Linked DNA regions of Homo sapiens. The protein of the gene in region 2 purifies or fractionates together with the protein of the main gene of each other region. This does not show direct contact. Each region holds a gene or a part of one and is shown on either strand. Other genes may lie near its edges.

Region 1 (7,027 bases), about 75 Mb from region 2:
CGAGATCGCACCTCTGCACTCCAGCCTAGGTGACAGAGTGAGACTCTGTCTCAACAACAACAACAACAAGACGGGGTCTCACTCTGTCACCCAGGCTGAAGTACAGTGCTGCTATCATAGCACACTACAGCCTCACACTCCCAGCTCAAACAATCTTCTCACTTCAGCCTCCCAAAGTGTTGGGATCACAGGTGTGAGCCATTTCACCTGGCCAACTGGTTTCCAATGAACCACTTTCTTTCTACTCCTTTTCATCACAGTACCTATATGAATTTTCTGCCTCAATGCAGCTTTCCCAAGTTTACTGAGGCATGATTTTTGAAGAATGACATAATTTTATGCCAAAATTAAGACAATGAAAGGCATTGAGATTCAAAAATTCAAAGTATGCTGGGTGCAGTGGTTCACACCTGTAATCCCAAAACTTTGGGAAACCAAGGCAGGAGGCAGCCTAGACTACAGGGAGAGACCCTACCTCAAAAAAAAAAAAAAAAGAAAGAAAGAAAAATAAATAAAAAAAGAAAAAAGTTGAAAGCATAAAGAGCCATGAGAGTTTTCTACCCATTAGTAGCTCATAAGCACAAGTTATAATGATGGTTTTATAAACAGATTGACCAAGATGAAAAAGAATTTGCAGCAATTGATTGATAAGGGTGAGGCACTGCTGCAGGAAGTAGAAGTCATTTAACTTTGGGGGACATCAATTTGACAACCTATCAAAGGCTTTCCAACCATGAACACCCTGATTTTAAGAAATTTATCTTGAAGCCGGGCACAGTGGCTCATGCCTGTAATCCCAGCTTTGGGAGGCCGAGGTGGGCGGATCATGAGGTCAGGAGATCGAGACCATCCTGGCTAACACAGTGAAACCCCATCTCTACTAAAAATACAAAAAAATTTGCTGGGCATGGTGGCGGGTATCTGTGGTCCCACCTACTGGGGAGGCTGAGGCAAGATAATGGCGTGAAGCCGGGAGGCGAAGCTCGCAGTAAGCCGAGGTTGCGCCACTGCACTCCAACCTGGGCGACAGAGCGAGACTCCATCTCAAAAAAAAAAAAAAAAAAAAAAAAAGGAAATTTATCTTGAGATAAATGCATAAATATAAGGATGTACTTAAATATATTCACTACAGCCCTATTAAGTGAAAAAGTAAAAAATGTCTCAATGCTCATCAAGTAATTTATTAAATAATGATATTCATATAATGGATTGAGATAGAACAATATTCAGAAAATATTACACTTTTAGCAAAAAATTACAAAAGAATATCCATTACACAGACCTTGTAACAGACGTTGCAATATCATATACTATGTAATGTATAACATTATGTTAACTTATCTCTGTCCAAATATATTTTGGACTCCTTGATCAAACTGTGGAATTTTGATTAGTGTTTACCTCCAACATAGACAGCATAAAGAATTGTAATCTTAGGAAATCAAAAAGCAATTTGGATGTCCAAAGAAAGACAATAAACTGACCAAAGTTTGTTTACTTATTTGGTATTCAGGAATACACTTAATATTTTTAGACTATAAGTAAAATCTTCATGCTTACCTTAAAAGTCAAGATAATGCTAATAAACAGAAGAATAATAAGGACCAAACAGGTAGGATTCACTGACATGACATCATCTCTGTAGGGAAAATTAGGAGGCTGCAAAAGAAAAGGGCCTCATTAGCAAATCTCATTAATCATTCCAGACAGTATTCCTTGGGCACCAATTCAGACATGCTTATCAGAAAGCAACTGATTAAAGCAGACAGCTATTATTTAGAACCAATACAAAATTTCTAGCCTGACTCTGCCCTCTTACCATATAAAAGACGTCAGTGATCGGTATCCAGGGACATTTTGTATATCCAGGGATCTCTGAAATTTGTATTCTCTGCAAGTTCTGAACCATTCCTTTTTTTTTTTTTTTTCTTTTTTGAGATGGAGTTTCTCTCTGTCGCCCAGCTCAGCTACTTGGGAGGCTGGGGTGAGCAAATCACTTGAGCCCTGGTGGTGGAGGTTGCAGTGAGCGAGATCATGCCACTGCACTCCAGCCGCCCGGGCGACAGAGCCAGACCATGTCTCAAAAGTTCTGAACCATTCTAAAGGGCATATGCAGGGCAAGGGACAGAAACCTACTAAAATGAGGTCTTCTTTGCAAAGAGCATTTTTGTTGATGGTACTTCTCCCAAGACAGCATATTCTCTTATACTAGCAAGTACTTCCAGGGTGGGGGGAAATAATCAAGCACTACCATCCACAATGCTTAACAACCAGGTCAAAGGGAACCTTTTCAGGAGGATCAAAGTCTGCTACTATGGTTAGAGGGAGTTGCCGGACTTTCCCCACAGAACACTCACACAGCATTGATCAACGCCTACATCACTGGCCTAGGCAAGTGAATGGGAAGGCAGCCTACTGTGCTATCTCATCTTTTATCTCCCTTCACCATTCAACACTATGTGTTTGGATTCCTCACGAGCAATATTCCAAAACAAAGTTGTTTCCAATGTTGAGGAAGAACATGGAGAAGGCCCATGACTCATGGGCTTGGCTCCTGCTCACCAGGGTGAACACCACCTAATGGTTTTCAGTCTCCTTTCACTTGGGACAAAATATCTAAGAAATAAAATCGTCATTCTTTGTGATCAGATCATGCAACTTTACTCTTTTATTAATAAAATAACTTGGCCAAGCACAGTGGCTCATGCCTGTAATTTCAGCACTTTGGGAGGCTGAGGCAGGCAGATTGCTTGAGTGCAGGTGTTTGAGACCAGCCTGGACAACATAGTCAAACCCCATCTCTACTAAAAATACAAATTTAGCCGGGCATGGTGGTGCATGTCTGTAGTCCAAACTACTTGGGAGGCTAAGGTGGAAGGATCACTTGAGCCCAGAAGATTGAGGTTGCAGGCTGGGCATGGTGGCTCACGCCTGTAATCTCAGCACTTTGGGAGGCCAAGGTGGGCGGATCACCTGAGGTCAGGAGTTCGAGACCAGCCTGGTCAACATGGCAAAACCCCACCTCTACTAAAAAAAAAATACAAAAATTAGCCAGGCATGGTAGTGGGCGCCTGTATTCCTAGCACTCTGGGAGGCCGATGAGGGTGGATCCTCTGAGGCTAAATGTTTGAGACCAGCCTGGAAAAGATGGTGAAACCCCATCTCTACTAAAAATACAAAAAATTAGCCAGGCTTGGTAGCGGGTGCCTGTAATCCCAGCTACTCAGGAGACTGAGGCAGGAGAATGGCTTGAACCCAGGGAGGCGGAGGTTGCAGTGAGCCGAGATCACAACACTGCACTCCAGCCTAGGTGATAGAGTGAGACTCTGTCTCAAAAAAAAAAAAAAAAAAAAGTAAAGTTGGCCTGGTACAGTGAGTCACATCTATAATGCCAGCACTTTGGGAGGCCAAGGCTGGAGGATCACTTGAGTCTAGGAGTTTGAGACAAGCCTGGGCAACATGGTGAAACCCCATCTCTACATAAGATACAAAAAGAAAAATTAGGTGGGCATGGTGGTGCATGCCTATAGTGCCAGCTACTCAAGAGGTTGAGATGGGAGGATCACGGGAGCCTGGGAGGTCAACGCTGCAGCAAGCCATAATCACACCACTGCACTCCAGCCTGGGTGACAGAGACCCTGTCCCAAAAATAAATAAAGTTATTCCAACCTCATAGCCATTATAAGCTTCTTAATACCCTGCCACCAATATTCACTCATATGGTCACAAAGGACATTTAACCGTAAACTAGTCCCAAAATGATGCTTGAGAAAGGGATTCTATGGTCAAACAAATTTGGGAGCTAGTATACAGCAGTGTTCCACTTTCTTTCCACTTTCTTTTGATTTTTCTTTTTTTTTAGATGAGATCTCACTCTATTGCCCAGGCTGGAGTGCAGTGGCGTGATCTTGGCTCACTGCAGCCTCCACCTCCCAGGTTCAAGCAATTCTCCTGCCTCAGCCTCCCGAGTGGCTAGGGTCACAGGCGTGTGCCACCTCTCCCAGCTAATTATTTTGTTTGTTTTTGAGCAGAGTCCCACTTTCAACACACTAGCAAAGGCAAAAAGCTATCCTTTGTTGATAACTGAGAAAACTACATTTTACCAAATACGACTATTAGTAACTGGACTATAATTTAGGTAGGCACATCAACCACCACCATCACTGCCACCAATCATAACCCCGGCCCTCAAAACTTTATCAGGCCAGGCACAGTGGCTCACACCCATAATCCCAGCACTTTGGGAGGCCAAGATGGGTGGATCACCTGAGGTCAGGAGTTCAAGACCAGCCTGACCAACACAGTGAAACCCCATCTCTACTAAAAATACAAAATTAGCCAGGTATGTTGGTACATGCCTATAATCCCAGCTAGCTGGGAGGCTGAGACCCTGGAGGCAGAGGTTGCAGTGAGCCGAGATCGCATCACTGCACTCCAGCCTGGGTGACGAGAGCAAGACTCCACCTCAAAAAAAAGAAAAAAGAAATTTCCTATGAGTAACTCAGCTGCAAGCTAAAAATCCTGAAATTAATGTCTGTGTATCTCTACACATCCCTTACTTAACCAGCTTCCCTAATGAAAAGAATTAATGAAAAGGAGCAGTAAGAGGTCCACGTACCAGTTGCCGTATGTATTCCTGAATGGAGTTTGGATAAATAAGCACAGTGATTGCAACCAACATGTTCAGGGCAAAGTCAAAGATCTGGTAACAGAAGAATGGGATGATCCAGGCTGCGCGTTGCTAAACAGAACAGAAAATAGAAAGTTAATGTGTTCAATATTATAAAACAATATTTTTCTTAAATTCAAAGTATTTTATTAATCTGAAAGGAAATGGAAAAATTGGAATTCATTAACCCAGGTCATGGTGGAAACCAGTATGCCAAATATAAGCAGTCAACAAATAAGCTTCAGTGAACATTTCCAGGACTGGCTGTGTGTGGTGTCTCACACCTGTAATCCCAGCATTTTGGGAGGCTGAGGTGGGTGGATCACTTAAGGTCAGGAGTTCGAGACTAGCCTGCCCAACATGGTGAAATCACGTCTCTACTAAAAAATACAAAAATCAGCAAGGTGTGGTGGCACACACCTGTAGTCCCAGCTACTCTGGAGGCTGAGGTGGGAGAATCACTTGAACTTGGGAGGCGGAGATTGCAGTGAGCTAAGATCACACCACTCTACTCCAGCCTGTGTGACAGAGTGAGACCCCGTCTTCCCAAAAAAAAAAAAATTTCCAGTATAATATTGGTTTTCCTAGTACCACATAATACAAACGAGAGATTTAAACAGAGATTCTTAACAGAAAACTGGAAAGTCACTTCTCACTATAGACAGCAGCACAGATTACACATGTAAGAGACCAAGGAAAAGGCCAGCATCTTACTGCAAGCGGCTTACCTTGTACGCTCCGTAAGTAGCCATAGCACATATCAGGATCATGAGAAGAGAAATCGCAATGGCAATGCACATGTCTGCCGAAAGATTAAAAAGAATTTCTTTAAAAAAGACAATCAGTAGTGGATCCACTGAATACTTTCAGTCTCTTCTCAAAGGCATTTTGTAAATAAACTAGCATAAAGTTAGTAAATACTTTATACTAAGAGATTATTTCAAAATAGAAAAAGGGATATTGGTTTACAGATTTTTTTAATGTTTGTTCTTCTGGTCCACTGGATTATATAAATAATGAATTAGGTATTACTTTATAGATATATAGGTGTCTAACTTCTATTTTGTAAACTCATGTGTGCCTCAAAGCTCTAATGAAAGCCTTCATAGCTTCCGATCTTATTTAAAATAAAAACTCCGGCCAGGTGCGGTGGCTCACACCTATAATCCCAACACTTTGGGAGGCCGAGGAGGGCGATCACGAGGTCAGGAGATTGAGACCATCCTGGTTAACACAGTGAAACCCCATGTGTACTAAAAATACAAAAAATTAGCCGGGCGTGGTGGTGGGCACCTGCTGACCCAGCTACTTGGGAGGCTGAGGCAGAAGAATGGCATGAACCTGGGAGACAGAGCTTGCAGTGAGCCGAGATCGCGCCACTGCACTCCGGTCTGGGCGATAGAGCGAGACTCCATCTCAAAAAAATAAATAAATAAAAATAAAACCTTCATTTCTTATCAAGGCCTTGATGTTCCTCTTTATTCCAGAGCAGTCTACCTCTCTAATCTCGCCTCACCTTGTCCCACTCTCTTGCTTGCTCTAAGACAGCCATATCATCTGGTTCATTCTATTTTATTTATTTTTTCTTTTTTCTTTTTATTTTTTTGAGACAGAGTCTCACTCTGTCGCCCAGGCTGGAATGCAGTGGGACAACATTGGCTCAATGCAAATTCCGCATCCCAGGCTCAAGCAAGTCTCCCAGGCTCAAGCAAGTCTCCCACCTCACCCCCTAGGTACCTGAGACTACAGGTGTGCTCCACCATGCCAATTTTTATATTTTTAGTAGAGACGGGGGTTTCACCATGTTGGCCAGGCTGGTCTCGAACTCCTGACTTCAAATGATCTGCCAGCCTCGGCCTCCCAAAGTTCTGGGATTACAGGCGTGAGCCACCATGCCTGGCCTTCAACTTCTTTTTTCCTTTAGTCAATCTCTGGTAAATAAGGAGTCTTGTTTGGTCTCCCAATCTGGAGTTGCAGTGGTGTGATCATGGCTCATTGCAGCTTCAATTGCCTGGGCATTGTCACTATGGGATTATAGGCATAAGTCACCGCACCCGGACAAAAATATCTTAAACCAACTTGGCAGGTACACAACTGCTTGTAGCACCATTATTTGCTACGGGTAATAAATATTTTATAAATATTCTTTTATACCTACTCAATATTTAATAAGAAATAATTTTATAAAAATGAACCCCAAACTATTGGTTTTTTTAAACTGCTTTTCCTAGATCTGGCAGAACAAATTATTGTCAATGAGAAAAATAATATTGGTTTTCATTGTACATGCAACTTCTCTAAAAGCTTTGCATTTTTTCGACAGAGATCTAGAGGGGAAAACATAATCTGCATACTAAA
Region 2 (7,027 bases):
CCTCCCAAAGTATTGGGATTACAGGCCTGAGCCACCGTGCGCAACCTATGATTTTGGTGGTGGTGTTTTTTGTTTTTCTGTTTTTTAAATATTCTTGAGTATATTTGTAAGCTTTAGATGACCTGTTTTAAGTTATTTAATCTATCAACACCATTATATCTGTTATTACGGCCACTGTTTCTGTTGATTACATTTTTTTTCCTGCCCATAGGGACTTTTTTTTTCATGCATAGTAATTTCTTATTGCTTGACATTGTGAATTTTGCTTTCTTGGGTACCGAACATCACTGTGTTCTTTCAAAGTCTATTGGGCATTATTCTGGTCACAGAAAACTGAGGATCAGTTTGCTCCTCTGATACTAGCTTTTATCTACATATAACTATATACCTTGTGTTCAGTTGCCTTATTCAGGGGCTCATTTAGTTAACTACTAAAGTTATAGTGGTTGACTTCTGATGGTAACTCGCCAGCACCCTGGCATGCGTTCTGTCCACTGTGGGAAGGGGAACATGCAGATCTCCCAGCCCTGAGTGGTCCACAATCTAGTCTCTCCTTCCCTGGGTGGCTTCTTCTCAGGCACCTAGAGTCAGTCTCAGCAGACACTGGACATGTCTTCTGCAAGGATCCAGAGTCCTCCAGGCAGCTGCTTCTCCCAGTCTCTGCCCTGCACTTGGCCTCTGGGAGTTCCTGCCTGTGGTTCTCAACAGAGACTACAGAGCTCTACAGGGTCCTCTGCCCCTGCTGTAGCTGGAGGCTGTCCTTACGCAGTGAGCTGAGGCCACAGCTAGTCTCACTGCATGTGCTTGGCGGCGGGGACAGGAGTGATTCATTCATCAGGTAGAGGAGGAACCCTTTACTCTGGGAAAATCTGTGCCTGGGTTGGGGAAGGACAAATGAGCCCTGTGTGAATACTGACTACTCCCTGGAGCCCACAGTCTGGTGGAGCAGGTGACAGCAGGGACCTAAATAACTATCAGGAAGCATGAGGTCCCACCACTGTCACCTCCCCCACCTCCAGAGTGGCTGTGCTGGCTCCAGAGATGTCATCCCTCCATATTTGACTGACAGAGGGAGGCTGTGCAGTCCCAAGGCTCCAGGTCATGGTAGTTTGGCCAGGATAATATGGTTTGCTTAAAATCAACATTGAGGGTAATGATCGTACTAATCAGAGCATGTGTTTAAAGTTCTGTGTTTTAAGCACTTTCCATACATATTAACACTTTCAGTTCACACAACAACCTATGCAGGAACTGTGATTATCCTGGGCAGTTTTAAGGATGTGGGTGACTCAGAGAGGAAAGAAGAGGTTACTCGGGTTAATTTTTGACGAGAAATATTAGCAGGTTTTATGCTCAAACTTGGTGTAAAGCAAGGAGCCTGAATCACAGGTGGGTGAGTCACAAGACAGGGAAACCCCGCCAATGGCTCATGTCCGGGAGGAGGCAGGGTCCCTAGAATTCAATGGGACAAGAACTGAAATAAGCCAAACCCCTGACCTCCCTTCTTCTTGTTTTCCTTCTCTCTCTTAACCATGCCCATGGACACCCCCATGAGCCCATTTCTGTGGCCCAACACAGCTGTGCATCTCTGGCCACACGCCCATTCTCCCTCAATCAGAGAGGCCCACGGACGGCACAGCCTCGTCCTGCACAGCAGAAAGAGTGAATGGTGATGAATGGATCTATATTATTTCAACTCTCCTACATTTTGTAATCATATTACAATATTAATTCAGCAGTACCTCTCTTGTTTTTACTCCCCTCCCCCATTACACTGGATTCCTGTCTGTCTGGGATTCTGTCTGTGTGCACTCTTTCCTCTATGTCCACTACTGTCCCTGCCACCGATGGCATTTGTCACCTCTGCCTGGGCAGCCCCTCCAGACTCTTTGCAAGTTCATGGACTTTGGGGTTAATGATGGCTGTGCCTCAGCTCCTGTGAATGGAAACTGTGCTAAGGAAAGGAAGGGCCGTGCCATGTTCCCGATACTCCACGGCTCCTTGCATATGCGGTCGCCAGGCGCCTACATGCCTTCCATGAATGAATGAATGAGTAACGTGGATTCTAGGAAGCTGCACTAACCCAGACGTTGTGTCCTCAGCCTGCTCATAGAGTGTGTTAAACGTGAGAGGTGGGGAGTGTGGCAGGCAGGCTGAGGACAGAACAGAGGATCTGAATAGAGTACGGAGGATCACCCAAGTCCAGAGTCACCAAGGCCATTGTCAAGTTTTCCCCGGGGACATCCCTCATCAGATCCACCCATTAAAGATCATTGTTCACCCAGTGGAGAGTGGACTAGGTGGGTGCACTCAGGTGTGGCCTGGACAGCATTCGGGATGGGTCCTAGTGGTTAGGGTGAGGGTCAGGTTGCATTATCGTGAAGGAGGCAAGTGGCAGCTGAGGCAGATCTGAGGGAAATGATGATAACGCAGGCCGGTGATGCAATGGGTTTGGTAAGAAGAGGAAAGAGGTTTGTGGTGGATTCTAGTGTTTCTAATCTGAGACTTGGGTGAGGTCATTACCAAATAAGAAAGAGTAAATGGGCATAAATGGCTTTAAGAATTAGGAACCTGAATGTGCTATTGGAGACAGTATGGGCACGTCATTGCTCATAGACCTGCAGTACACAAAATGCTAAAAGATTTCAATCTGAATAGAGATGAAATGAAATGGAAACATGGATTTTTTTTTTTTTTTTTGAGACAGTTTCACTGTTGCTGCCCAGGCTGGAGTGCAATGGCGCAATCTCGGCTCACTGCAACCTCTGCCTCCTGGGTTCAAGCGATTCTCCTGCCTCAGCCTCCTGAACAGCTGGGATTACAGGCGCTTGCCACCACACCCAGCTAATTTTTGTATTTTTAGTAGAGACCGGGTTTCACCATGTTGGCCAGGCCAGTCTCAAACTACTGACCTCAGGAGATCCACCGCCTTGGCCTCCCAAAGTGCTGGGATTACAGGCATGAGCCACCTTGCCTGGCTGGGAACATGGATCTTAAGGAAAGAAGGAAGATCATCAGGAATAGAAATATGAATGCACATATAAAGAATGATTATTTCCTCTTAATTTCTTGAAAATATTCACTATCAAGTAATATAACACTTTGTAGGGTTTGTAACATATGAACATGCCTGAGACAACTATAGCAGAAAGAATGAGTAGTGGAGATGAATCAATCTGTATTATTTCAAGTCTCCTACATTTTATAATATTACCATATTAATTCTGCCATACAACTCAGTAATGAAAAGGAATGGAGTACTGATGCATATGAAAATATGACCGAATTTCAAAATAATTATGCTGAGTTAAAGAAACCAGACAGAAAAGCATATATAGTATCTGATTCCATCTATGATATTTATAGCCAGAAATGGTTTAATTAAAAAAGAAGAAGGATCTTAAATCAACGAGCTAAGTTTACAAATGTAGGAATTAGAAAAAGAATGAACCAAACCTAGAGTTAGCATTATAAAGGAAATAATTATTAGAAGAGAAATAAATAAAACAGAGAATAGAAAAACAGTAGAGGCCGGATGTGATGGCTCACGCCTATAATCCCAGCACTTTGCGAGGCCAAGACAGGAGGATTGCTTGAAGCCAGGAGTTTGAGACCAGCCTGGATATGGCAAAACCCTGTCTCTACAAAAAATATAAAAAGCAGCCTGGCCCGGGGGAGCACACCTGTGATCCCAGTTACTCGGGAGGCTGAGGTGGGAGGATCACTTGAGCCCCGGAGATGTAGGTTGCAGTGAGCCAAGATCACATCACTGCACTCCAGCCTGGGCAACAGAGTGAGACTCTGTCTCAAAGAAAGAAAGAAAAAGAAAAAAGAAAAACCATAGAGAAAATCCACAAAACCAACATTGATTCTTCAATACTATTAATTAAACTGACAGAATTCACTAGTGAATTCTAACAAGCTTTTAATGAAGAGCTAATACCACTACTTCTCAAACTCTTTCAAAAACTTGAAGAGAAGGGAACCTTTCTTGACTCTTTCTGTAAGGCCAGCATTGCTCTGATACCCAAGCAGATAAAGATATTACAAGAAAATAAAGCTATATCCCAGTATCCCTAACTGATGCAAAAATCTTCAACAAAATACTATCAGAGAGAATTCAACAGTACCTTAGATGGATTATACACCATGACCAAGTTGGATTTATTTCCGGAATGCAAGAATGTTTGAACAAATGAAAACTGAACAATGTAATACATTGCATTAATAGAATGAAGGGGGAAAAAGACACATGATCATCTGAGTTGATACAGGGAAAGCCTCTGATAAAATTCAAAGCCCTTTCATGATGAAAACACCCAGCAAACTAAGAATAGAAGAAAACTTCCACAACATCATAAAAGCCATGTAAGAAAACCCCACAGCTAACATCATACTCAGTGTTGAAAGACGGAAAGCTTTTCCTTTAAGATTAAGAACAACATAAGGATATCTACCCACCTTTGCCACTCAGCATAGTACTGGAAGTTCTAGCCAAAACAGGCAAGAAAAAGAAATAAGAGCATCTGGACTGTAAAGGAAAAAGTAAAATAATCTGTGTTTTCAGATGATATGATCTTACTGGTAAAAAATCCAAAAGATTTCACAAAAAATTAAACTGCCAAAAATAAAATAATATTAAATTTTTAAAATTTTGAAATTTATTGTTGTTCAGTAAAAGACAGTACAGATTGCAATCTGGGAGATTTCAAACCAAGTGGTAAGAAACTTGCCTTACAGCAGGTATAGTACAGGCTATAAAGGAGGATGTATTTTGACAATTTCATGATTGACTTATAAATTTATATTCTTTTTAAAGGCAATCAGAGCTGTTTAAGCTGATTTTTCTATAGCTGCTTGATTTAACTTCACTGAACCATATTATGTCATGATGAAGGTGTAAAACTTATATTTTGTGGGATTTTTTATGATTATAGCTAATGTTTCAGGGATATCAGGATGTCTTAAGTTTTGGCTACATGGTTATGGGTAATTGCCGTGGGGTATATCTAAACTGTGTTTTTAATTTTTATTTAGTAGTACTAAAATGAATTCATCAAAGAAGCGGAATACAAAATCAACTGGAAAAGTCAATTGCATTTCTATACACTACCAATGAACAATTCAAAAAAAGAAATTAGGAAAAAATCCATTTACAATAGTATCAAAAATAATAAAATAGGAGTAAACTCACCAAGGAGGTGGAAGACTAGTACAATGAAAACTATAAAACATTACTGAAAGTAATTAAAGAATACAAAAATAAATGGAAAGATATGCCATGATTATGAATTATAAGACTAATTATGTCAACATTTCCTAAAGTGATCTATACATTCAATGTAATCTCTATCAAAATCCCAAGGACATTTTTGCAGAAATGAAAAAATGTATCCTAAAATTCATATGGAATTTCTAGGGACCAGAATATCCAAAACAATCTTGAAAATGAATAAAAATGTAGTAGGATTCACACTTCCTGATTTTCAAAACTTCCTACAAAGCTGCAGTAATCAAAACAGGATGGTACTGACATAAAAGCAGATAAATCGATCAGTGGAATAGAATAGAGGAGCCAGAAATAAACACTCACATATATGGCCAAATTATTTTTCACAAGGATGCCAAGACTGTTGAATGGAGGAAAGGGCCGTCTTTTCAATGAAGGGGGCTAGGAGAACCGGATATCCACATTCAAAAGAATGAAGTGAACCTTAGCCTAACATTGTATTTAAAAAATAGCTAAAAACAAATAAAAGATGTAAATGTAAGTGCTAAAGCTATAGAACTCTTGAAAGAAAATATAGGATAAAAATTCTGTGACATTGGATTTGGCAATAATTTCTTGGATGTGACACCATGGACATAGGCAACAAAAGAAAAAATAAACATTTTGGACTTCTTGAAAATCAGTAACTCTTGTGAATCAAAAGATACTATTAACTGGATAAAAAGGCAAAACCCACAGAATGAGAGAAAATATTTTAAGTTATATATCTGATAAGGGCTTAATATCTAAAATATATAAAGAATTCCTACGATCTAACAAAACAAAAACAACCCAGTTAAAAATGGGCAACTGATTTTTATAAACATTTCTCCAAAGCAAATATACAAATGGTCAATAAGTATATGAAAAGATACTTTAATCACTAATCATTAGGGAACTGCTGGTCAAAACGACAGAGATACCATCCTATACCCATCAGGATGACTATTATAAAAAACACACACAGGCCGGGTGCGGTGGCTCATGCCTGTAATCCCCACACTTTGGGAGGCCAAGGCAGGCGGATCACGAGGTCAGGAGATTGAGACCATCCTGGCTAACATGGTGAGACCCCGTCTCCACTAAAAAAAAAATACAAAAAAATTAGCCCGGCGTGGTGGCAGGCGCCTGTAGTCCCAGCTACTTGGGAGGATGAGGCAGGAGAATGGCGTGAACCCAGGAGGCGGAGCTTGCAGTGAGCTGAGATGGCACCACTGCACTCCAGCCTGGGCGACAGAACGAGACTCTGTCTCAAAAAACAAAAACAACACACACACACAATAAGCATTAGCAAATTTGTAGAGAAGTTGGAACCCTCGTGCCCTGTTAATGGGAATGTAAAATGGTGCAGCCACTATGGAAAACAGTATGATAGTTCCTCAAAAGTAAAAACAGGATTAGCAGATGATCCATCATTCCCACTTCTAGGTATACGTCCAAAAGAATTGAAAGCATGGTTTCAAACAGATATTTGTACACCCACGTTTATAGCAGTATTATTCACAATAGCCAAAAAGTGGAAGAAACTCAAGTTGGACAGATCAATAGATAATGTGGTATATTCATACAATGGAGTATTACTCAGCCTTGAAAAGGAAGGAAATACTGGCACATGCTACACAATGGATGAACATTAAAGACATGCTCAGTAAAATGCCATTCATAAAAGGACAAATGAAATAGGATTCCACTTGAGGTACCTAATGTAGTCAAATTCATAAAAACCAACAGTAGAATGTTGGATGCCAGCGGTTGTAA
Region 3 (7,027 bases), on a different chromosome or scaffold from region 2:
CCAGGCTGAAAATTTCTTAATTTTAAAGAAAAGTATTCAAACTACAAACTAACTAACTACAAAGTATTTATAAATCATGCCGGGTCTATACTGTAGTCCTAGGGCAAGCCCAATGCAGGAGGGAAAATCTCTTTTCCTCCCGGAAGAGATGGGCAGCAAATGTGGCACAGTGGTAATTCCCATCCTGGTGGCACGAAAATAAGCAGGTGGTCCGGAACTGACCACCTCCTGGGGGCTCACCTTTCTTGTCTCAGTTTCTGGGAGAGGCACTGCAGGTACAGGGATGGTGAGCTGTGAGACTGCTCCAGCAGGGACATGTCCGCAGTACACAGGCTCCAGAAGAAGTCAGCTTCTCGGTGAACTGTGCACAGCCCTCGCTTCTGAGCCTTGAATTCCACATTCTTCATCGCTGGCCCATCCACCTCCAAGAGGCTGCTGTCCTCCAGCTGGCCCTCTGACACCACATAGTTCTGAATAAAAAACATCTTTGGCTTCCCTGCTAGATAAGGGCATGAATCTCCCATGAACATCCTCCTGATGTGATGCAGGGGGAGCCCTGAGTGAGTCTGATCCACACCATACACACTCTGGGAGCCTCCTCGGCTCACCAGGACACACACAAAGCTGTCGTAGTCTCGGTGCTCGGGCATACAGGCAAATTGGCCAAGAATCTGGGATATACCATGCATACTGAGATGCAAGAATTTCTGGACTTCATAGCCCAGGGAAGTGAAGGTGTCTCGAAGAAGCTCTGGGGAAAACAAAAAACAAACACGGAAAACAACACTGGAGTGAGGAGAGCTCAAGAGGACTGGGTAGGAATCCTAGACATGGTCTAATCTCCATTATGAAAAGCTTCTGCTTTTGTGTCATATTTTGATGTGCCTGAGTCCTGGGCAGTTGGAACAAGAACCACATGAATCATGAAAGATGTGATTTTAGGTCCCTAAATATGGTCTATACCCTGCTATACCACTGTTCCTGCCTGATGCCAGCCACAGGCACAGACTGAGCCCACTCTAGTCCAATCAAACCAAGGGGGGACAAAACCTTTTTTTCTTCAACAATCTTCTTATTGAAGTCCAGACCTCACAATCTTTCTCTCTTCTGAGTGGCTCACTCTGGGAGAAGCCCACCACCACATCATGAAAGTACTCAAGCAGTCCCTCAGAGAGGCCCACATGAAGAACAGGCTTCCTGCCAACAGCTAGCACCAACTTCTCAGTCATGTGAGTGACCACCATAGAAGTGGAGCCTCCAATCCCAATCAAGCATTCAGATGACCCAGCTGACAACTGACCACAACTTCACTAGACTCTGGGCCAGAACAGCCCAGCTAAGCTGCTCCTAAATTCCTCACCCACAGGTGAGGATATAATTAAATTAGTAACTGTGAAGATATAATTAAATTAGTACTGTTGTTTTTAGCCACTAAATTTTGGAGTGATTTGTATACATTTTTAGGTAAATAATTCACCAGGTAAGTCCTTTGACCTTTCCTATCGGTAAAAGGAAAAGGCTTCTTACTTTTCTCCTTTGCTTGGCCCACAACTAAGGATTAAACAATGAATTATTGGCTGGGCGCAGTGGCTCACCTGTAATCCCAGCACTTTGGGAGGCTGAGGCGGGCAGATTACCTGAGGTCAGGAGTTCAAGACCAGCCTAGCCAACATGGCGAAACCCTGTCTCTACTAAAAATACAAAAATTAGTCAGGTGTAGTGGCACGCACCTGTAGTCCCAGCTACTCAGGAGGCTGAGGCAGGAGAATCGCTTGAACCCAGGAGGTGGAGGTTGCAGTGAGCCAACATTGTGACACTGCACTCCAGCCTGGGCAACAGAGTGAGACTCTGTCTCAAAAAAAAAAATTAATTATTATATCATGTAAGAATGAAGAGCTACAAAGGAGGTGCTGATATTCCTAAGTCTATAATCAATAAGCATCATTAACAAGGAAATAGGAGACATGATTCACAGGTTGCAAATAACCCATTAAATAGTGAGGGCAACCAGCCCCAGTGGCTCACATCTGTAATCCTAGCACTTTGGGAGGCCGAGACGGGCAGATCACCTGAGGTCAGGAGTTCGAGACCAGTCTGGCCAATATGGTGAAACCCCGTCTCTACTAAAAATACAAAAATTAGCCAGGCGTGGTGGTGCTCACCTGTAATCCCAGCTACTAGGGAGGCTGAGACAGGAGAATTGCTTGAACCCGGGAGGCAGAGGTTGCAGTGAGCCAAGATTGCGCCACTGCACTCCAGCCTGGGCAACAGAGCAGAACTCCGTCTCAAATTCAAATAATAATAATAATAATAATAATAATAATAATAATGATGAGGGCAAATGCCGTTACAGGATCTCTGGGTAGCTGTTATCAGGACTGTAATTTTGCACAGCCTTTTTGAAGAGCAATTTGGGAGTATCATTAAATTTTAAATGTGTATACCCTTTATAAAAAAAAGAAAACTCTGTGTGGTAGAAGAGGCCTGGACGCACTGTCCCCTAGCCATCTCCTCTGAGGGTGCAGGCTTGTTTCGATACCCAGTGCTGAATCCAGGCTGAACAAGGAGAGAACCTGGACTAGGACTCCAGTTCCATCACTGCTATTCTATTCCAAAGGACTCACACGTCTCTAATCATGGAGTATTTGCTCCTCCAGGGGGCAGAAGCAAACAGGGAAACACCAGACTCAAAGCTCTTTTGTGTACTTATCTCAAGATTGGTTCACTTCCCTCAAAACCTCTCTTCACTGATAAATGTCCTTCCTTATCAAACAAAGTCCTTGAAAGAAAACTTCACCACATTCTCCCTGCCCATGCTGATATGTAAGGCTTGGACAGAACAAATGCTGTACTGTGCCTTCCAGCTCTTTCCTTTATTTGTGCTCCCTGGAGGTTCTGGCTGGGGAAGCCCCTGTCACATGACTGTGAGCAGACAGCTGTGTGGTGCAGGGCAAAAGAGGAACCAGCCTTGGAATCACAAGATGTGGGTTTAAGTCCTAGTTCCTCCATCTCCTCCTACTAGGGTCTGAATCTTGCATGGTCTTGGAAGAGACTGAGCTATAACAGCAGAGAAGCTAGGAAGGAAATGGGAATCTGAGGTCTGGGGCAGAAAATCCTTACCTAAAAGAACAGAAGAAAAATGGCTAAAGCTGGAGGTGAAGCCAAAAACCATGCAGGTCCCAAGTGCCAATAAGAATAGCAGGTCTGAGCCTCAGACAAGACACAGCATTGCTTAAATATCCTGTGGCAAGGGAGTCACTCCACAGGCCCAGCCTGAAGACATTACCGCTGACATTTCCCATTAACGTCACAATTTTCCTCTATGAGGTGGTGAGGTGGAGTGGGAAGGGCTGTTAGCTGGCACTTGCAACTTTATTGCGCCAGCAAGAACATGCATACAGCCCAGTCTAACGTACAGGATCAAAAAGGTAATGACAGTGTGACTTTGAGTCAGTTTGAGTCAGCCCCAGTTTATTCATCTATAAAACAAGATTAAAACTAATGCTTGGCCAGGTGCAGTGGCTCACACCTACAATCCCAGCACTTTGGGAGGCTGAGGTGGGAGGATGGCTTGAGCTCAGGAGTTTGAGACCACCCTGGGCATCACAGGGAACCCCGTCTCTACAAAAAATAAAAAAACTAGCCAGGCATGGTAGTACAAGCCTGTAGTCATCACAGCTACTCAGGAGGCTGAGGCAGGAGGATCTCTTGAGCAGGAGGTTCTTCAAAAGGTGACTGTGAGGGCAGGGTACAGTGGCTCATACCTGTAATCCCAGCACTTTGGGAGGCCAAGGCGGGTGGATTGCTTGAGCTGCAGAGTTTGAGACCAGCCTGGGCAACATGGCGAAACCCCATCTCTACCAAAAATACAAAAATTGGCTGGGCATGGTGGCACGCATCTGTGGTCCCAGCTACTTGGGAGGCTAAGGAAGGAGGATCACTCGAGCCCAGGAAGTGGAGGAGCCAAGATCGCTCCACTGCACTCCAGCCTGGGTGAAAGAGTGAGACTCTGTCTCAGAAAAAAGGTGACCGTGAGGATCCAATGAGATTTCTGTAAAGATGCTTTGCAAACTGTGTTTATTCAAATATAAGATATTGACTTTAAAGGAAATAAAGGCAGCCATTTCAAAGTACAAATCACCAACCTTATGGTGTTGCACATCTCTCATGGAATCTCTCTCTTAGGACCTGGAGGGAGGTCTCTATATTCTAAACTAAAATGGGCTCAGAGCAGACAGAGTCCATATCCTATGTAGGTAGGACAGTAACTGTTTTGTCCTTGCACATAAATAGAGGAAGAAAAACTTGGGGGCTGGGTTTGGAAAATAAAATTTCAACAAACTACAGAAGACCCACTTCTCCTTCTAGAACCCACCCTGGAAATCCCACACTCAACCCAGTCTGATCTCCGTAAATTTCAACTGTTCTTTAGAACTTCTGGAAATGATGTGGGGGGGTGGGGAGGGGAAGGGCAGGGGTTCTTCTGGCCTTGCAGTTAGTACAGGGCTGTTCATTCAAGGCTAGGGTCAGCACTACTCACAGGTTTGAGGACTTCACAGATAAACCAAAAAAACCAAAATACAGTAAAATGTCATGACTTCATTAATTTAGAATTTGTTTTGATCTAAATGAGGATACATTTATCTTGACAATTTCTATGAAAAGGGCTTCATTAAATAAATGTATAAAATAAACAAGAATGAGGGAATGCTTCACCAGTTAATTTACAATCACATATTGAGTACCTTTAATAAGCCCAGTGTTAACTGCTATAGAGCACATGGGTAAAACATAAGATGGGCAAAACATTCTTAGTGAAAAAGGGAGTTCTGAGGTCAAACGTGTTTGGGAAATGCAAGGTGGACAAGGCTAAAATAGGTTTCTTCGCAGGAAGAATTCTCAGAGCCTTTAATAGGTCAATATGCATTGCAAATCTCTGAGGGGGAAGAGATTAGGCAGCGCTTCTCAAATTTACTTGACCGGAAAACTCTTGTTTTACAAAGTTCCCCTTATTGCCTACAGAAACACTTGGACAAGAGAATACATATCAAATATATGATGTACTTCAATCAAAGAGCTTATAATCTTGTTGGGGAAGCAAAGCTTATAAATACGCATAAAACAAAGATTACGTGGTGGCTCATGGCCATAATCCCAGTGCTTTGGGAGGCCAAGGCAGGAAGATCACTTGAAGCCAGGAGTTCAAGACCGCCCTGGGAAATACAGCAAAAGACCCTGTCTCTATAAAAAACAAAGTTAGCCAGACATGATAGCATGTGCCTGTAGTCCCAGCCACTCAGGAGGCTGAAGTGGGAGGATTGCTTCAGCCCAGAAGTTTGAGACCAGCCTGGGCAACATAGTGAGACCCTGTCTCTACAGAATATTTTAAAAATTAGATGGATGTGGTGGCGCCTGTGTGTAGTTCCAGCTACTTGGGAGGGTGAGGTGAGAGGATTGCTTGAGCCCGGGAGGTGAAGGCTGCAGTGAGCCATGATTGTACCCCTGTGCTCCATTCTGGGTGATAGAGCAAGACCCTGTCTCAAAAAAGAAAAGGAAAGTACAGAAAAATGTTCAAGCTTTTCAGAAAGAGCAGGATAGAAAAAAAAAATACTTCCTCTTGGCCAGGTGCGATGGCTCATCCCCGTGATCCCAGCACTTTGGGAGGCCGAGGCGGGCGGATCACCTGAGGTCAGGAGTTCAAGACTAGCCTGGCCAACATGGTGAAACCCCATCTCTACAAAAATACAAAAATTAGCCGGGCATGATGGCGGGTGCCTGTAATCCCAGCTACTCAGGAGGCTGAGGCGGAGAATCGCTTGAACCCGGGAGACAGAGGTTGCAGTGAGCCAAGATAACGCCATTGCACTCCAGTAGCCTGGGTGACAGAGCGAGACTCTGTCTCAAAAAAAAAAAAAACTTCCTCTTAAAATCTGCAAACATCGTCTTTTATTTTTATTCAAGGGCCTTAAAAACAACCAGAGCTTTAGGCCAAGCCGTAAAGCCCATCTGTCAGAGATGTGAGACGCTTGCTTCTATATTCCTAACAAGATAAAAGTCCAGTGCTTAAAGATGACCCACCAGGGCCTAGCACAGGTCCAGCTTTGCTGTCACTGACACAGATGACACAACACCAAAGACTTATTTTTCAATTCTACCAAACTGAGATAATTAGTTCCCAAATCCCTGAGCATTTACTTCTGCCTCAAGAAGAGGTTACTGAACTCCATAAGAATTCTTCTCAAGAAAGAACTACCAAAGAATAACCTTATTTCATGCACAACACAGCTCTGAGATCAGACTCCACCTCATTGCCTTAATATTTGCTTCACACAGGGCCAAGCATGGTGCTTTGCACATAGTAGGCCCTCAACGAACATTTACTGGACAAACAAAGAAATAAAGCTTTAAATACTTGGGGGACTTGCATGCTTTTTGGATAAAAGTCTGGTTTTTTGAGGAGAGAAGGGAAGATAGGTAGAAGAGAGTCTGCTAAACTCTAAAGATAAAAAGGAATGGCTTTTAGAAACACACTGACACTGGGAGAGCTTATTCCTTCATTCATTCACCCAACAATTATTTATTGAACACCTACATAGCAGGTATTCTTCCAGGTACTGGAGACCCATAGTAGGAGATAGATAAACTCCCTCACCTTCATGGAAATTATATTGAGGCAAAGTAGTTAAAAGCATAGGTTTTGGAGTCCAGCTTTTGAATCCCAGCTCAATCAGTACTAGAGAAGGTAGGAGTGTAGTTCACTGCTCAGCTTCCTCACCTTGAAAATGGAGAGAATAAGCCAGGCATGATGGCTGACGCCTGTAATCGTAGCACTTTGGGAGGCTGAGGTGGGCAGATCACAAGGTCAGGAGATCGAGACCAGCCTGGCCGACATGGTGAAACCTTGTCTCTACTAAAAATACAAAATTAGCTGGGCATGGTGGCACATGCCTGTAATCCCAGTTACTCAGGAGGCTGAGGCAGGAGAATCGCTTGAACCTGGGAGGTGGAGATTGCGGTGAGCTGAGAT
Region 4 (6,906 bases), on a different chromosome or scaffold from region 2:
AGTTTGCAAGACTTTTTTTGTTTTTGTTTTTGTTTTTGTTTTTTTCTGAGACGGAGTCTCGCTCTATCGCCCAGGCTGGAGTGCAGTGGCGCGATCTCGGCTCACTGCAAGCTCCACCTCCTGGGTTTACGCTATTCTCCTGCCTCAGCCTCTCGAGTAGCTGGGACTACAGGCGCCCACCACCATGCCCGGCTAATATTTTGTATTTTTAGTAGAGATGGGCTTCACCGTGTTAGCCAGGATGGTCTTGATCTCCTGACCTCGTGATCCACCCGCCTCGGCCTCCTAAAGTGCTGGGATTACAGGCGTAAGCCACTGCACCTGGCCAAGATTTTTTTTTTTTAAGAAACAGATTTCACGTGGTGGTGGGCGCCTTAATCCCAGCTACTTGAGAGGCTGAGGAGGGAGAATCGCTTGAACCCCGGAAACAGAGGTTGCAGTGAGCCGAGATCGCATCACTGCACTCCAGCCTGGGTGACAAGAGCGAAACTCCGTCTCAAAAAAAAAAAAAAAATAATAATAATAATTTAAAAAAAGATTTCCTTCCTTCTCTCCTCCCTCCTTTTTTCCTTCCTTCCTTTCTTTTTCTCTCTTTCTTTCTTTCTCTCTCTCTTCTTTCTTTGTCTCTTTCCTTTCTTTTCTTTCTAATTTGGCACACAAACACTTTATTTAAATGCATATCTCAATTCCTGTGCGGCTGGCAAATAAAATAAAGGAGCAGATCATGGCACAGCATTCTCATGGACCAAGTGGTCGAACCCAACATCCAAGACCCAGTGAGCAGCCAAGCTCAGTGCAACCTCCAGGCCTCTCGCTCTGACTCCAACAGGGTGAGCACATAGCCCTTGCGCATGGGGTCTTTTACACTGTGGATGATGGAGTGGCTTGTGTCTTCCATAAATTCCCGCATGCACTGTCCCTGAGAGCTGGTTCTGCCCAGGACCTTGGTGACCCTGGCTAGCTAGATAGGCTGCACATGGCTGGTGTCTGTGATGGCGATGCAGCAGCAGTTGGGCAGAGAGAAGAAATAGATTTCTTTACAAAGCAAGTAATTATTTAAAATATTCACGGTAATTCAGTATTCATTAGCTGTACTCAGTAAATATTTATTGAACAGCTACTATGTGCTAGGTACTCGCACAAAGTACACTGGTTACAAATTCTTGAAAAATAGTAGCGGTAGCAAAAAGCAACAAAACTTTCAGCCCTGCCCTTATGGAACTCACATTCTAGTGGGCAGGGAGAAAATAACCAGAAAAAGGCCCAGCACAATGGCTCATGCCTGTAATCCTAGCACTTTGGGAGGCCGAAGTGAGCTGATCAGTTGAGACCAGTCTGAGCAATGTGGCAAAACCCCATCTCTACAAAAAATACAAAAAGTACTCAGGCTTGGTGGTCAGCCGAGAGAGAGAGAGAGAAGGAAAGAAAGAGAGAGAGAAAGAAAGAAAAGAAAGAAAGAGGCCAGGCTCGGTGGCTCAGGCCTGTAATCCCAGCACTTTGCGAGGCTGAGGCGGGCGGATCACGAGGTCAGGAGTTCAAGACCAGCCTGGCCAATATGGTGAAACCCTGTCTCCACTAAAGAAAAATACAAAAATTAGCCAGGCATGATGGCGCGGGCCTGTAGTTCCAGTTACTCGGGAGGCTGAGGCAGAAGAATCGCTTGAACCTGGGAGGTGGAGGTTGCAGTGAGCCGAGATCGCGCCACTGCACTCCAGCCTGGGTGACAGAGCAAGACTGTCAAAAAAAAAAAGAAAGAAAGAAAATAACCAGAAAAAAAAAGTAAAAATATAGGACATTTTAGGTGAAGGTAAGCACTAGGAAAGAAAGAAAAAAAAAAGCAGGGAAGGGATGTTGGCCGGGGCGGGCGGAGGGGGGGATTTATACAGTTTGGCCAAGGAAGACATTATAATAATGCACTTATTCCTTAGTTTAGAACATGTAGCATTTCACCTGTACCGAGAGATGCCTGATATATTTCATACATGACCAAAATAATAATGTAAGAGGCAATAAAAAAGTGCAGGGTTTTAGGGTTCTAGATATCAGCACATTTTAAGATTAAATGCATGGTAAGAACTTTTGTACTATATACACCTAGTTTGAACTTAAATTTAATAACAAACTCTTTGGAGTCTCTCTCTCTCTCTTTTTTTTTTTTTCCCAAACATAGCTTCCCAAGGAGCAGAAGGGCTGAATTTTCTCTAGTTCCAGGAAGACCGCAAGGCTACTGTGCTCTGGATGTCTCGTTTTTATTTTTTTATTTTTTTATTCTCCAGATCTCAAGACGGTGTCTGGCACATACCATTCAATACAAGTTTGGTACCTGGAACCCACTGAATATGCATGTCCAGTAACTATTAACTACATGTGTTGGTGCAAGGGAGAAGGTCGAGCAACCGGATCTGCTCCATCATAGCCCGTCTCAGTCGCTTCATTCAAGTCAGCGGGGTGAGGTTGAGGGGATTCCAACTTCACAAGGGCAGATTTCTCATGGACTCTCTTTCTCTGGTTGTACTGGAACACTTTCTGGCGTTATTCCTCTGCTGGGACAGCATGAACTTATGAAACGTGGTCCTGTCTGCCCTAAAGCCAGGGTCTCACCGACAAGGACAGCGATGCTGGGGCGAGAAATAAAGTTCGTCCTGGGCCTGCGTACGGTACAGCGCCCTTGGGAAGCCCTTGTGGAGTTAAGGGTGATGCCCACTTCTTTGTCTCCCTCATTCTGTTTCGGTGGCTCTCTCGTTCCCAGTTCCAAGCTGCCCACTTGTTAGAGGAGCCACTGCTTACCAGGCATCTGGTTTAATAAAACATGGCTAGAGCGACTGCATGTTAAAGTGAGTAACTAGGCACTCACAAGGCACCTATAAGGTTAATGCTAAAGGTCTGAAAATAGCCGCATTCTAAGCTGACCAACAATTATAATTACACAATATTTATGGCCATACAGGACATCTCCCACCAAGTCTGCGGAATTGTCCAGATGTCCTGAGTTTTTTTTTTTTTTTTAGACAAGGTCTCACTTTGTCGCCCAGGCTAGGCTGGAGGGCAGTGTGGTGCGATCTCAGCTCACTGCAACCTCCGCCTCCCAGGTTCAAGTAGTTCTCCTGCCTCAGCCTCCTGAGTAGCTGGGACTACAGGCATGCACCACCACGCCTGGCTACTGGCTTTTTTTTTTTTTTTTTTTTTTTTAAATAGATGGCATCTCAGTATGTTGCCCAGGCTGGTCTCGAACTCCTGGGCTCAAGGGAGACTCCTGTCCGGCCTCCCACAGTGCTGGGATTACAGACGTGGCCACCGAGCCCGGCCCAGCCCTCTACTCAGAGATAACGTCAATGCGCAGGCTTAGGTTGAAGGATTAATGGTCATTAGTGCACCAACAGCCCCTACCTTTAGTGGGCACATCAGCACATTCCACGATTAATCACAGCTCCTCACAGCTGCCTCTAAGTAGTGACACTACCGAAGGACGGGAGTTCCTCCTCCTGCAGTCTGAGGACTTGCACTCTCTAACGGAGTAGATTCCAATAAACTTGCTTCCTTCACTGCGCTCTGTGACTCGCCTCCAATTCTTCCCTGAAGTAGACCCAAGAACCCTCTCTTGGGGTCTGGATCGAGACCCCTTTTTCCAGCAACACAACCCGCGGGGCCGCCTCCCGCCCACCCTCAGGTGCAGGAGACCCCGGGCCATGCATCCTTCCGGGCAGGAAAATGTCAGCCAGCGCTCGCCGGCCGCTTTCCTCCCCCGCCTCCCGAAGTTCTCGCCCGGTAGCTCCCCGACTGGCTCTCGCGCCGGACAAAGGCGCACGCTGATTGGCCGGAGGGCCGTAGTCATGCAGGACGCGCGACTCTAGGGGCGGGACCAGACAAGGGGTGACTGCCGCGCGGCGCGGGGGAGGAGACCTTCATCTGTTCACGCGGTAGCGCGGATTGCGGTTCGCGGCGCGCGCCACCGGGGAAGGAGCGGTGGGCCGAGGGGTTGGAGGTGGGGCCCCAGGAGGACCTCGGGCTGTGGGCCGGGAGAGCGGAGTCGGGGAGTGGGGCGGGGGAGCGAGGTGGCGCCGGGGAGCCTGGGATATGGCGCGGCCAGACGATGAGGAGGGGGCGGCGGTGGCGCCCGGACACCCGCTCGCGAAAGGATACCTCCCGTTGCCGAGGGGCGCGCCCGTTGGGAAGGAGAGCGTGGAGCTGCAGAACGGGCCCAAAGCGGGCACCTTCCCGGTGAATGGGGCCCCCCGGGACAGCCTCGCTGCCGCCTCGGGAGTTCTGGGCGGGCCTCAGACTCCACTGGCCCCAGAAGAGGAGACCCAGGCCCGGCTGCTGCCTGCGGGCGCGGGAGCTGAGACCCCGGGGGCCGAGAGCAGCCCGCTGCCCCTTACGGCGCTCTCCCCGCGGCGCTTCGTGGTGCTCCTGATCTTCAGCCTGTACTCGCTGGTCAACGCCTTTCAGTGGATCCAGTACAGCATCATTAGCAACGTCTTCGAGGGCTTCTACGGTGTCACCTTGCTGCACATCGACTGGCTGTCCATGGTGTACATGCTGGCCTACGTGCCCCTCATCTTCCCGGCCACCTGGCTGCTGGACACCAGAGGCCTGCGGCTCACCGCCCTGCTGGGCTCCGGCCTCAACTGCCTGGGTGCCTGGATCAAGTGCGGCAGTGTGCAGCAGCATCTCTTCTGGGTCACCATGTTGGGCCAGTGCTTGTGCTCGGTGGCCCAGGTGTTCATCCTGGGCTTGCCCTCCCGCATCGCCTCAGTGTGGTTTGGGCCCAAAGAGGTGTCCACAGCTTGTGCCACCGCCGTGCTGGGCAATCAGGTAAGTACTGGAGTGGTAGGTGAAAGTCAGATCCTTAAAAGACCGGAAAAAGTCATAGGCCGTGAGAACTATGGCCTGTATGGATGAACTGCCCCAGGAGGTATTTGTCTATAAAAGAGGAGATGAAGCCGTTGAATAGGAGGCCGTCTTGGATTGAAGTGGGCTATAAATTTCTTTGTAAGGACAAAATTTTCCAAACGACCTTGTCATCTTGCTTTGAAAATTACCTATAAAATAATTAACTGGGCCGGGCGCGGTGGCACACACCTGTAATCCCAGCACTTTGGGAGGCCGAGGTGGGTGGATCACTTCAAGTCAGGAGTTCCAGACCAGCCTGGGCAACATGGGGAAACCCCGTCTCTGTTAAAAATACAGAAATTAGCCAGGCCTGCTTGCGGGTATCTGTAGTCCCAGCAACTCAGGAGGCTGAGGCAGGAGAATCTCTTGAACCCGGGAGGTGGAGGTTGCAGTGAGCGGAGATTGCACCTTTGCACTCCAGCTTGGGTGACAGAGTGAGACTCTGTCTCAAATAATAATAATAAACTGTAACCATAATAATAATAATAATAATTAACTGTATTGGCTTGTGTATGCCTAACATGGAAAATTTGTCAATGCAGTAACGAACAAGACTTGGGGTATTATTTTTGTCACCAGTGTATTTGTGAAAGGAAGGTATTGGGTTCTGGGAAGATTGTTTCCATTTTGAGAGGTCATTGTGAACAGCTCCCTTTTAATTTCATATATTAGCAGTCAGCACAGTTCCTGGCACATAAGGGACACATAAATGACTGCTAACCAAAAGTTCTGGGCTGGGCGTGGTGGCTCACGCCTGTAATCTCAGCACTTTGGGAGGCTGAGGCAGGCGGATCACTTGAGGCCAGGAGTCTGAGACCAGCCTGGCCAACATGGCAAAACCAAATACACAAAAATTAGTGGGGCATGGTGTGGTGCATGCCTGTAATTCCAGCTACTCAGGTGGCCAAGGCATGAGAATCTACATGCTTATTGCTTTATAGTCATTTCCCTTATCTAAAAGTACAGAAGATGGAGTAGGTTGAACTATAGTTGTTTGTCCAAAATAATTTATGACTGATACTTGAGTTGGTTGCATCTGCAGGTTTGGACAGAAGCTATTATAAAGTTTTTTGTGTGTGTGGTTTTTTTTTTTTTTTTTTGTAGAAATGGGGTTTCTCCATGTTGCTCATGCTTGTCTCGAACTGCTGAGCTCAAGCTCTCTGCCCACCTCTGCCTCCCGAAGTGCTGGGATTACAGGTGTGAACCACCACGCCCGGCCATGATTACATTTTCTTTGTCACACATCTCTCAGTTTAAATTCATTTTTAAATATTCAGTAGCATTTCTTGATCCCATTTAGAGTTGCCCAGTCACTCTCTTTACATTATTTTACTTTAATTCTCCTTATAGCACTCATCCCTGTCTCATATGTTATTGTTTACATGTTCATATGTTACTTACCTATTACTTTTCTCTTATCCCCACCATTAGATTGTAAGTTTCATGAAAATAGGAATGTGGTCTGAATGTACACAGCTGTATCACCAGCATTTATTACTCTCCATAAAACCATGTTGAATAAATAAAGGAGCTTCAGACTCATACAGATACTGGCCAGCTGGATAGTCTACTTGGATATCTCATGGGAACACACCACTCAAAATTGCTTTCTCCTTGCTCATTTCCCTTTATCTCTAATGCCACTGTCTTGGTTTGGGCCACCCACAGCTCTCACCTAGAGCTTGCTAACTGTCCTCCCTATCTGTAGCCCTTGCTGTCTTCCCTCTGTTCTCGCATTCATCCAGCGTGGTCTTTTACAATGTGCAAATCTGTTCCGGGCACATCCTTACCCCCTGCAGTGGCTTCCATTGTCCTTAGGATAAAATTCAAACACTCTAGTGTGACATATGGGACCCTCCAGATCTGCCTCCTGCCAGCCCTTCCACTTTATCTGTATGCACAACCCCTGTCCCCACAGACATATGCTTTCTCTGCTCTGTGCAGAACTATGCCTACTTATAGTTTCTCACAAGGTCGTGCCCTTTCCCTCCTGGCCTTGTATGTAATGTCCTGTTG

The links.
Region 1: the proteins of TNFRSF10B (region 2) and LAPTM4B purify together in Homo sapiens (affinity purification with mass spectrometry; 3 studies listed by BioGRID and IntAct, with this or other methods). This does not show direct contact.
Region 3: the proteins of TNFRSF10B (region 2) and CFLAR purify together in Homo sapiens (affinity purification with western blotting, with the first as the bait; 5 studies listed by BioGRID). This does not show direct contact.
Region 4: the proteins of TNFRSF10B (region 2) and FLVCR1 purify together in Homo sapiens (affinity purification with mass spectrometry; 4 studies listed by BioGRID and IntAct, with this or other methods). This does not show direct contact.

What each region holds. Positions count from the first base shown.
Region 1 is NC_000008.11:97,813,772-97,820,798, reverse strand, and holds part of LAPTM4B (lysosomal-associated transmembrane protein 4B), read right to left. Parts: intron 5,472-7,027; coding exon 5,398-5,471; intron 4,742-5,397; coding exon 4,619-4,741; intron 1,660-4,618; coding exon 1,561-1,659; intron 1-1,560. UniProt on the Homo sapiens protein: Required for optimal lysosomal function. Blocks EGF-stimulated EGFR intraluminal sorting and degradation.
Region 2 is NC_000008.11:23,059,020-23,066,046, reverse strand, and holds part of TNFRSF10B (tumor necrosis factor receptor superfamily member 10B isoform 1 precursor), read left to right. Parts: intron 1-7,027. UniProt on the Homo sapiens protein: Receptor for the cytotoxic ligand TNFSF10/TRAIL. The adapter molecule FADD recruits caspase-8 to the activated receptor.
Region 3 is NC_000002.12:201,154,156-201,161,182, reverse strand, and holds part of CFLAR (CASP8 and FADD-like apoptosis regulator), read right to left. Parts: exon of another isoform or gene 6,776-7,027; intron 3,429-6,775; exon of another isoform or gene 3,391-3,428; intron 752-3,390; coding exon 241-751; intron 1-240. UniProt on the Homo sapiens protein: Apoptosis regulator protein which may function as a crucial link between cell survival and cell death pathways in mammalian cells. Acts as an inhibitor of TNFRSF6 mediated apoptosis.
Region 4 is NC_000001.11:212,854,379-212,861,284, forward strand, and holds the start of FLVCR1 (choline/ethanolamine transporter FLVCR1), read left to right. Parts: upstream 1-3,896; 5' UTR 3,897-4,074; coding exon 4,075-4,812; intron 4,813-6,906.